2 separate regions of the Homo sapiens genome follow, and region 2 is linked to region 1. The links come from fine-mapping of genetic effects on gene expression. A gene starts in region 1. The other region holds a variant in brackets. All regions are shown on one strand. Distances are between the middles of the regions.

Evidence for each region. PIP is the estimated chance that this variant, and not a neighbour inherited with it, causes the effect. A credible set is the group of variants that fine-mapping cannot tell apart.
Region 2: its variant is the best candidate, but not a certain one, in a credible set for the expression of XXYLT1-AS2 in prefrontal cortex (BrainSeq, PIP 0.64).

The regions. Positions count from the first base shown.
Region 1 is chr3:195,145,073-195,150,458 of GRCh38, forward strand. XXYLT1-AS2 (XXYLT1 antisense RNA 2) reads left to right here and starts at 2,799. Exons shown (of 2, transcript NR_102711.1): 1 at 2,799-3,033. The region is part of intron 3 of XXYLT1 (xyloside xylosyltransferase 1); the gene reads right to left. It overlaps LOC105374296 (a long non-coding RNA gene), which reads right to left. Exons shown (of 2, transcript XR_001741088.2): 2 at 4,199-5,386. It also overlaps the pseudogene RN7SL36P. RefSeq lists enhancers at 2,517-2,626, 2,867-2,916, 5,145-5,354.
Region 2 is chr3:195,192,524-195,197,909 of GRCh38, forward strand. All of the region lies in intron 2 of XXYLT1 (xyloside xylosyltransferase 1), which reads right to left. Among named protein-coding and RNA genes, the nearest start is that of XXYLT1-AS2, 47 kb to the left of the region's middle. The variant A/C (reference allele first, on the strand shown) is at 3,093.

The DNA of each region.
Region 1 (5,386 bases):
TACCCAAGTGAAGAGCTAGAATTATCCTGCTTTCTTTAGAGTTCCAAGTTCGTGATCCTTGGGCCGGTCAACATAGGATGGTCCTAGCAGCAAAGGAAAGGATTTCCATGCAGAGACTGGGCTTGATTTTATTGAGAGAAGCAGCGGGCTTGTTTGTGTTTGTTTTTTTAACAGAGCCAAGGAAGATCAAGTGGAAGCCACGTGAATGGGCACCTCACTCCACGGTTACCAGCATTGATGGGGCCCTGCGAGCATCTCTGTGAAGCCACATGAACGGGCACATCACTCCACGGTGACTGGCACTGATGGGGCCCTGCGAGCATCTCTGTGAAGTCACATGAACGGGCACCTCACTCCACGGTGACTGGCACTGATGGGGCCCTGCGAGCATCTCTGTGAAGCCACATGAATGGGCACCTCACTCCACGGTGACCGGCACTGATGGGGCCCTGCGAGCATCTCTGTGAAGCCACATGAACGGGCACCTCACTCCACGGTGACCGGCATTGATGGGGCCCTGCGAGCATCTCTGTGAAGTCACATGAACGGGCACCTCACTCCACGGTGACCGGCACTGATGGGGCCCTGCGAGCATCTCTGTGACTTCACATTTCTGAAAGTCCATAGAATCCACCAGCCTCATAATGAGCGCTCGTCTACAGACGCAAGGACACCGCAGACATCCAGGCAAATCACGACATACTACGCCAATTCTGGCTCAGCTTCCTCTTTTACAAACAGTGATAGAGCAGTCCCCAAAAGGCAGACGGCTGGGTTCCTGGATCAAAACACTCCTTTGGGCAGCTCCTTGATGCTGGAGTCAATTCTGCTACCATGAAATAGAAGATCACAGGGGTTCTCTATGATCAACAGTAAGCAGCTCATTTAAAGAAGTCACCTAAGGCAGGAGGAGGAGACAGATGTTCAATTCAACCCCAGGCTCAGATTAAAAGTTTGATATTTCTATAAGAGCCAATTCTGCTGCTACCCTGGAAGCAGAGGGATGGGAACTTCAGATCCGTTTCACTTAGGAACCCACAGAAGAAATGCAGTCCTGTGGCTGAAGTCTGCACCTGAGATGGCCATGGAGCCATATAGAAATTCCCTTCATGTGGGGCTGGTCACGCTCAGCTCAGTCCTTTCCACACGTGGTTTGTTACAGAAGGTCCCTCTTGTACACATGCCACTGGGATTCAACTGTGCTATTTTGCTTTTTTTCCCCAGGAAGATGCTTACAGATAAGCCTTTCTGCTGCCTGGATTACAAATAAGGTTCTTTCAATGCGATGATGTTTATTTGGCATAGGAAACAGATTGCAGCAATGCAACAAAGCACACAGTCCTGCGGGCCCATCATCCGCCGCTGTGCCTCCACTGTAGCCCTGTCCAGACCCACGTCCCACTGCAAGCTCCTGGAGGACAGGGTCTGGTTTCTCTCTACTGCATAGCCAAACCCTCGGCAAATGCCTGCCCAGTGAGCTTTCTATTCGGGCACAGAGTTTGGTCTATCCCAAGAGCACTCTTAGAGGCTACGCCTGCATTGCAAAGCCAAACACCACTCCGAGAGACTTTTCAGAGGAAAGAAGGGAATGTGATACCCACTTCTTAGCATTTTGAAGGCAGAACTCCATTTTTGTTTGTTTGGTTTCTTTTTTTAGAGACAGGGTCTCGCTATGTTGCCCAGGCTGGAGTGCATGGCTAGTCACAGGCGTAATCCCATTACTAATCAGCACAGGAGTTTTAACCTGCTTCATTTCCAGCCTGGGCTGCTTCATCCCTTCCTAGGCAACTTGGTGGTCCCCCGTTCCCAGGAGGTCACCAAGTTGATGCCAAACTTAGTGCAGACACCCACAGAATTCCTGGGCTTAAGTGACCCCCCTGCCTCAGCCTTCCAAGTAGCTGGAACTACAGGTGCAGGCTACCATGCCCAGCTGAAGGCAGAATATTAAGCTGAGGGAGAGGTGAGCCACTCAGTAAAATTTACAGTTCCTACAGCAAAAAGTCTATGTATCTTGTCCATGGGATATCTCTAAACAGCAGTACTGACTCAGTGTTGACACCGCAGGCATTTGCGTTTTCATTAAGTTTTATCTACCCTATCTCCCTCACGTTATATCTTCCTTGAAAGCAAGAGGCATGTCTTCTACTTCGTAATTCCTCATGGGACCAATCCTATGGCTCACACACACAATGAGCCAAATAAAAAACTGAGAATAGGCTGGGCATGGTGACTCACACCTGTAATCCCAGCACTTTGGGAAGCCCAGGCAGGTGGATCACCTGAGGTCAGGAGTTCGAGACCAGCCTGGCCAACATGATGAAACCCTGTCTCTACTAAAAATACAAAAATTAGCCAGGCATGGTGGTCAGCGCCTGTAATCTCAGCTACTTGGGAGGCTGAGGCAGGAGAATCGCTTGAACCCGGGAGGCGGAGGTTGCAGTGAGCCAAGATCACACCACTGCACTCCAGCCTGGGCGACAAGAAAGAAACTATGTCTCAAACAAACAAACTGAGAATAACAAACTTTCCCATGGACTGTCTTTACAAACAAAAACTGAATGTGAAAGTAACTTCTCTAAGACCAGTAATGGGACTACAGAGCCTGACTTAGCAGCTGGCCAGCACCGCGGAGGAAACGCCCTCTGACTACACATCTGTTCCTGCATTCACTCAACAAACATCGAAGTGCCTGGCATTGGTCTGCACGGCATAAACAGAACAGAAGGGCTGCCTCCCAGTCCCACCCCTTCCACGCATTCACTTCCTCACTCATTCTTTCAGGAGACACCTGTGTCAGGCACGACGTGGTGAACTTTTAAAAACGGATTCAGTAGTACCAAAATACTCATAATGTGCAGACAGACAAAAGAACTGGAAGGAGTCGTGTTTTCAGACACAGGAAGCTTTTCACGTGCTCCACCTGGACCTCATCTCTCAGCCTCACACTCCGATCTTCAGCAGCCCCCGCTATGCGCCCGAGTCTTGGGACGTCATCCCGGAGCTCCTAGCCTGCCCGGGAGGCAGAGCCATCAGGTAAGAGACGGTCACAATGACAGCAACACAATCCCGCTTGGGTTCTCTGTACAGAGTTTTCCTTTTAAAATACCTTTTCCACTGATGTTATTTAAAAATAACAACCTCAGAGTAGACTTCTGATCTCTACCACAGGGCAGGTACATCCCTCCCTTTTTATGAGTAATTCCTGCAGGGGTTATAGCACGGCCTCCAGGTCACACGGGCTACACAAAAACACTTAGCCCAGTTTTCTAACTCCCAGGGAGTGAAGGAATCACTATTTTAAAAGGTGGCAAGCTTTTTTCTCCTTTACTCAGATTTAACTCTGATAGAAACTGACAGGCTCAATCTTGGTTAATTTTTTTTTTTTAAACACGAGAACAAGGTTCAAGAAATTCATCTTCAGGTGTCAGAGAGACGAAAAGAACCCAATAGCTTTTATCTTCAAGTCCTACATTTATGCATCTCGTAATGAGGGTGATGGCTGGTTCCCTTACAACGGAGGGCTTCATGCCTAGTGAACAACGGACCTGAATTTATATCAGCCATAAAGCCTTCCAGACGTGACGGTCACGCTAACATCCTGACATGAGGCAATCTGCAGAGAGATGGAAAGTGTGCTTGGCTAGAGGTTAGTGCTGCCTCTCTCTATTTTCTTCCCTTGTACCAACTGATTTCAGACTGAGGAACTTGAAGACAGAGTGACACTATGAGCTCATATAACTCTCCTCAGCTCTAAACTCGGCCACAGCAGATGTGTTTTTAAGAAACTAATAGACTGAAAATGACATTTACAGACGAAATGCTGTGACGACTGAGATTCGTTTCAAAATAATCAGGGGAAGAGGAAAAGTGGGTGGGAGGAGACATAAAACAAAGATTGGCTAAGGGCTGATAGTTATTGAGGCTGCATGGATATTATAATATTGGGGCATCCAGAAATATTACATGATGCTTTCTACTTTTGTATATGTTGAAAGGTTTTCATAGTAAAAAGAAAAATCATACCAAGAGACCAGCAACATTTATCAAAGAAGGCTGACTTAGGTATAAGGATGGTCAAGATACACTGTTAAGTGAACAAAAAAAGATGTACAAAGGTATAGAGAGTTTATTTACATATACACACACACACCCCCTGATAAAAATATAGAAAATTTCTGGAAAAATAATAACCTCCATATGCTATTCAAAACAAAAATGTATCACTTTTTAATGATGAGTTTTAGATAACAATTGTTTTCATCCGATGGGGGGGCAACAGGAGGAAAGGGCATAGTCGGCTTGAAAATGAGATAAACATCTCCATGGGCCAGGAACAGAACAGAAACCATATTGGAGATCAGGGCTAGAGCCATGGCTGGAACCTGGAAGCAAGCAAAGGGCCAGATGTTCACCCTCTGTGCAGCGTAGCAGGGACCAAACACCCCACGCACGGGGGAAAGTGGAAGCCAGGCTCAGTGAAACAGGGAGTGGGGGCTGCCTCGGGCACAGTCCTCGGTCTCTCCCCCTGTCCTCGTCCCTTCCTCCTCTGCTGCAACTATACTGCAATCTACATTCGTCCCTCCCCCCATCTTTGATCCCCTGGTTTCCAATATTCTCTGGGATATTAAAATGTTCTTCACTATTGCGGACTAGTTATTTTCTCTTTGTAATACTGTCTGTTTCTGTTTTGCAAATACCTTACAATGTTTAGGGTAAAGCCATAAAAACTGGTCTGTATAGATAAGACACTATTAATAAATGTATGATGGTAATTTCCGCAGAAGCGGGAAGGAGGGAAACACAGTACCAACACCCTAGCTAGCTGCGAGGAAGCCGGGAGATAACATATCCAGCGTTTTTGTCTTCCATAATAGGAGGCAGGCTTCTATGGCAGAGAATTCCCAAATTCTAGGAAAGGGGTTAAGATGCTGAGAAGCCAAAAGATGAGCAATAATTTTGCTAAGTTGTCAGCAGCCCCAACCGTACATATAAGGAAACTGAGGCTGAGGTTAAGTGACTTCCCTAGGTTCACAGAACTTATCAGTGGCCAAGCTGGGACTGTGGATAACGCTGCCACCACCACCCAGGAGTGCTGCTCGTGCTAGGCACCATAAATACATTATCTGATTCAATCTCCCTCAACTCTGCCACATATAGTGTTATAATCTCCATTTCTCATGAGCTAAAGAGACTAAGGCTCAGAGACGTCAAGAGACTTGCCCAAGGTCACACAGCAACTGAGTGGTAGAGGTAGTCAGTCCACACCCTCCCTTCTTCCCTCTGTGCTGGCGCTCACTCCCTCCCCAACACTCCCCTGGGAGCCCAGCACCAGTCCTTGGAGTGGGATGACGCAGCCTGCAGAGAAGCTTTCCTTCCGAGCGTCTGG
Region 2 (5,386 bases), 47 kb after region 1:
AGAAAACTGTAATTCCTAAACTCTATCTATCAATACAAAAAGAATTACATAGAATAGCTAAGTGAAGATTTATCCCAGGAATGCATGGCTGGTATAACATCTGAAATTAATGTAATACCCACAGACAATTGTCATATGTAAATTGTGAGAGACTGAATCCTTTCCTCCTAAGGTTGGGAACAAGGCAAGGACGTCTGCTATTGCCATTTCTATTCTACACTGTCCTAGAAGTTCTAGCTAGTGGAATAAGGCAAAAAATAAAATGAATTAACTAAGCAATTGATTAATTAAAAGCATCAGATTGGAAAGGAAGAAGGAAACTGTCTTTATTTACAGATGACATAATCCTGTATGTTAAAAATCTCAAGGAATCCACACAGAAAAAGGAGTTTAACAAGGTTTCAGGATATAAAATCAATCACACTTCTATATACTAGCAACAAAACAATCAAAAAAAGAAATTCAAAAAAATCCATTCCTGGCCAGGCACGATGGCTCACACCTGTAATCCTAGCACTTTAGGAGGCCAAGGTGGGCAGATCACCTAAAGTCAGAAGTTCAAGATCAGCCTGGCCAACGTGGTGAAACCCTGTCTCTACTAAAAATACAAAAAAGTTAGCCAGGAGTGGTGGTGTGCGCCTGTAATCCCAGCTACTTGGGAGGCTGAGGCAAGAGAATCGCTTGAACCCGGGAGGTGGAGGATGCAGTGGGCGGAGGTCACACCACTGCACTCCAGCCTGTGCCACAGAGCGAGACTCCGTCTAAAAAAAAAAAAAAAGCCATTCCTAAAATAATAAAATACTTAGGAATAAACTTAATAAAAGGAGTACAAGACTCGCATACTAAAAACTGCAAAACACTGCTGAGAAAACTAAAGAAGATCTAAATAGGTGGAGAGACATTTCATGTTCATGCATTGGAAGCCTCAACACCGTCAAGATGGGAATTCCTCCCAGACTGATATGTAAATTACTATCAAAATCCCAGCAGACTTTTTGGTAGAAATTGATGAATTGATCCTAAAATGTATATGGAAATGCAAAAACTTAAAAAAGCCAAAACAATTTTGTATAATAACAAAGTTGGAAAATTCACACTACTTGATCTTAAAAATAACTACAAAGCCACAGAAATCCAGACGGTGTGATACTGGCACAGGAAAGGCTTATAGATCAATGCAATAAAATTGGGAATTCAGAAATAAATCCTCACATTTATAGTCAATATATTTTCAACAAAAATGTGAAGGTAATTATTATTACTTATCACTATTGTAATTCAACGGGTAAAGGACAGTCAATTAGATATACAAATGCAAAAAAATTAATAAAAGAAAAGAATTTGGACCTTTATCTCACATCATACATAAAAATTAACTCAAAATGGATCATAGATCTAAATGTAATAGCTAAAACTATAAAACTTCTAGAAAACAAATGTTGCAGGAGAAAATATTCCTGACCTTGGGTTAGGCAAAGAATTCTTAGATAATGACACAAAAAGCCCTATCCATACAATAAAAAAATTGATAAACTGAACTTCAACATTAAAAATTTTGTGCATAAAAAATAAATCAATATTAAAATGAAAATAAGCCACAGACTGGGAGAAAAATATTTGTAAATCGTATATCTTATAAAGAACTTGCATCCAGGTTATATAAGGAATGCTTGCAACTCAGTAATAAGAAGACGAACACCCCAATTAATATATATATTATATATATATAAACAACTCAATTATATATCTATTCAGATATTTCACCAAAGATATGCAAAGGGCTAACAAGAACATGAAAAGATGCTTCACCTGACTAGTCTTTAAGAAAATGCAAATTAAATGAGATACCTTTATACACTCCCAGAATGGCTGTAGTAAGAAGACTGACAATAGCAAATGTTAGAGAAGTTGTGGAAAAACTGGAGCCCTCATGCCTCCCAGAAGGGAATATAAATGAGTACAAGCACTTGAGAAAACAGGCAGTTTCCTACAAAGTTAAACATAAATTTCCCATATGACCCAGCAATTCTACTCCTAGGAATTTACCCAATAAGAATGAAAATATATGTTCACACAAAGATAATGCTCACGACAGCATTATTCATAATAGCTCCAAAGTGAAACCGGTCCAAACGTCCATCAACTAACAAACACACGAACAAAACGTGGGACAGCCACACAATGGAACACTGTGTAACAAATTGAAAGGAATAAATGACTGATACATGCTACAACATGGATGAACCTCAAGAACAACATTATGCTAAGTAAAGAACCCAGGTGGAAAAGATTACATATTATATGATTCAATTTACATGAAATTACCAGAAAGGGCAAATTTAGAGAACCAAAAAGCAGATCAGTGATTGCCCATGGCTAGGGTAGGAGCAGAGATTAACTTCAAACAAGCAGAGGAAACATTTGGAGGAATGGAAAGGTTCTAACACCGAATTGTGGTCGTGGTTACATAAACCTATAAATTTACTAAAACCACAGAATTGTGCATTTGCAATGGATGAATGTGATGGTATAAACTGTACCTCAACAAAGCTGGGTTTTTTTTTTAAAAGGACAATGTACATAAAAATTCTCTTTAAACCATAAAACAGCAGCTGTTACTACAATGGTTGTTGACGTTAAATGCTATGGAGGGCCACTGAGAACCCTCCAGTGATAAAGCTGGCTACCGTTCTCATAAATGTTCTCTTAAGTGAATTCATATAAAGCACTTAGAACAATGCCTGGGTCTCAGTAAGCCTTCTGTATTAGCAGTTATTATTATTACAGTCATACTCAATGTCATTGCTATTACCAGCAAGACATGCCTGGCTTGAAGTGCTCTGAGAAGGTGGCCTGGCTTCCCCAGGGGTGACCACCACGGATTCCTTCCTCAGAGTCGCTCAGGCGCCTAAGACTGTTCCAGTCAGAAGTCCCACTGAGAAGTGGCCGCAGTTCTTCCACTGGACAGAGCCTCTTTCAGCTTTAAAAAAATAAAAGGACTCTCTTTTCTGTGTGTTCCTTTGTTCCTGGAACCATCTAGATCCCTGGGGAGAGGCTACCCGTGGTTTGTTGTAAATGAAAGAGATTCATGA[A/C]TGAAAAGCTTTTGTGCCCTGGTCCCTTCACTCTGGCAGTTCCCCTACTGCCCAGCCCGGGAACTCCATTCATACAGCTCTCAGGAACAGCTCGGAGGGCCCGGGCAGTGCCGTGCTGGGAATGCTCTTCCTGCACCCCAGCTGGAGCCCCTTCCAGCAGGCTCACCCCTCTGGCCTGCAGGAGTTCAGCACCGCCAGCCACACCTGCCATGGTCTAGACACAGTCCTGTTGCATTGAAGTATCCAATGAGCTCCAGTGAGCCTGAGCCTGGTCAGGACCTCCAAGTCACAGTCCCTCTTTCTCCTCACTGCCTCAGTCTCCCTGCCTGGCACTGCCATTCCCTCCAGGCTAGCCCGAGGCTGCAGCCTGCTTGCCCAGGTCACCTGCCACTGCCAGTCTCCAAGGCCCCTCAATGTTGGCTTCTTCAATCACCCAGGAAGCAGCCAAGCCCTGGAGGACAGCGCCGTCCAGCAGAACCCTGTGCCTGATGGAAACGCTCCGCACCCGCACTGTCCAATAGAGTAGCTGCTAGTCACATGTGGCTACTGAGCGCTTGGAATACAGCTAGTGTGACTGAGGAGCTGAATTTTTAATTTTCTTTACTTTTAATTAATTAAACAAAAATGGCCACATGTGGCTAGCATCTGTCCTATAGGACAACAGAGTTCTGCCAACTGAAAGTGGCCTTGCCATCCTGCAGGGTGCGGCAGGAAGCAGGGCAAGATGCTCCCTAGCCCTGTGGCACTCACCCTGCCCTATTCCCCACAGCCTACAGGGTCCTGCCTCCTCCCCATCCCCGCCAGCATCACTACTGGGCCAACAACCCCGACATGTACAAATAGTACCCCTGGGGCAATAGGTATGCCCCCTCAGAGCTGAGCACTGCTCCTGCAGTCAGCCTTTCAGCAACAGATCTCAGGGGAAGAAAACATAACACAGGCAGATAGGCGGAGAAAGAGACCAGAGATGAGTCAGGCAGGCGATGAAAACATAGGGAGGGAGAAAGGAGGCCTCTGCCTTCTCTGTTTAAATCTGAAAAAATAACCTGCCTGGAATTTTAACTTGCTTGGGATGCAAACTCAGGAGACCCAACCGTGTAAAAGCAAATGTAACAGGATAAGAAAAGAAGATAACTGAAAACGGCTTTGTACAAATTAAAATGCCAAAGTAATAAGGAATATTGGATGAGACAAGACTAAACTGGCTATCAATGTTGGCTGAACAAGTGACAAGTCATTAATTGTCACTTCCTTTAAAAAAAAAAAAGTAGCACATTTGAGGACAGGCAGAGCAGTTAGCAGGAGGAAAAATATTTTACACTGGGACTAGTATATCCTTTTTAAAACCCGGTGTTGTCAATTACCTCACAGCATAACCACCCTGGATAGGAAAAAATCAATATGCACCGAGGCAATTATCTTCTGCACCTCTTGGTACTGAATTGGCAATGAGTTTTCATGGCTCAATTAGCTTGTAACTTAAAACAATAGCAGCTAGTCTCCATTTTCCTCTGGGATATTTATTTACAACAAAAATGTGGCCAGGCACAGTGGCTCACGCCTGTAATCCCAGCACTTTGGGAGGCCAAGGCCAGTGGATCACCTGAGATCAGGAGTTTGAGACCAGCCTGGCCAACAAGGCGAAACCTCGTCTCTACTAAAAATACAAAAATTAGCCGGGCGTGGTGGTGCACGCCTGTAGTCCCAGCTACTCGGGAGGCTGAGGCACAAGAGTCACTTGAACCTGGGAGGCAGAGGCTGCAGTGAGCCAAGATCGCGCCACTGCACTCCAGCCTGGGCAACAGAGTGAGACTCAGTCTCAATTTAAAAAAAAAAAAAAAAAAAGCTATGTTATTTCAAAGTGTCTTCAAAGGACAGACTGAGAACCAAATATTAGTGGCATTATAGTGAAATGTTATTCTGATAAGTATCCTTGGGAAATAATATTAAGAAACACTATGTACCTAAAGATGTTCACAAGCATCATAGTATGGCATCATAAAATGGCAAAAAATTGAAACTATCTAAACAAATTAAAGTCCTATAAAAAAGACAACTATATATCCCGTCCGCTCAGGATCACAATTCTCTGCTCCAGCGAAGCTGCTTGTTCAAGTCACCAATGACCTTCACATTGCTAAATCTAGTCCTCATCCTACTGACCTGCCATCAGCGTTTGACACAACTGGTCAAATACTCTCTCCAGAAACACTGTCCACTTAGTCTCACACATTCCCCTCTAGGCCAGCAGCTTATGGAAAAGCGAACCAGAGGCTTCCTTCCCAAGGCTAGGG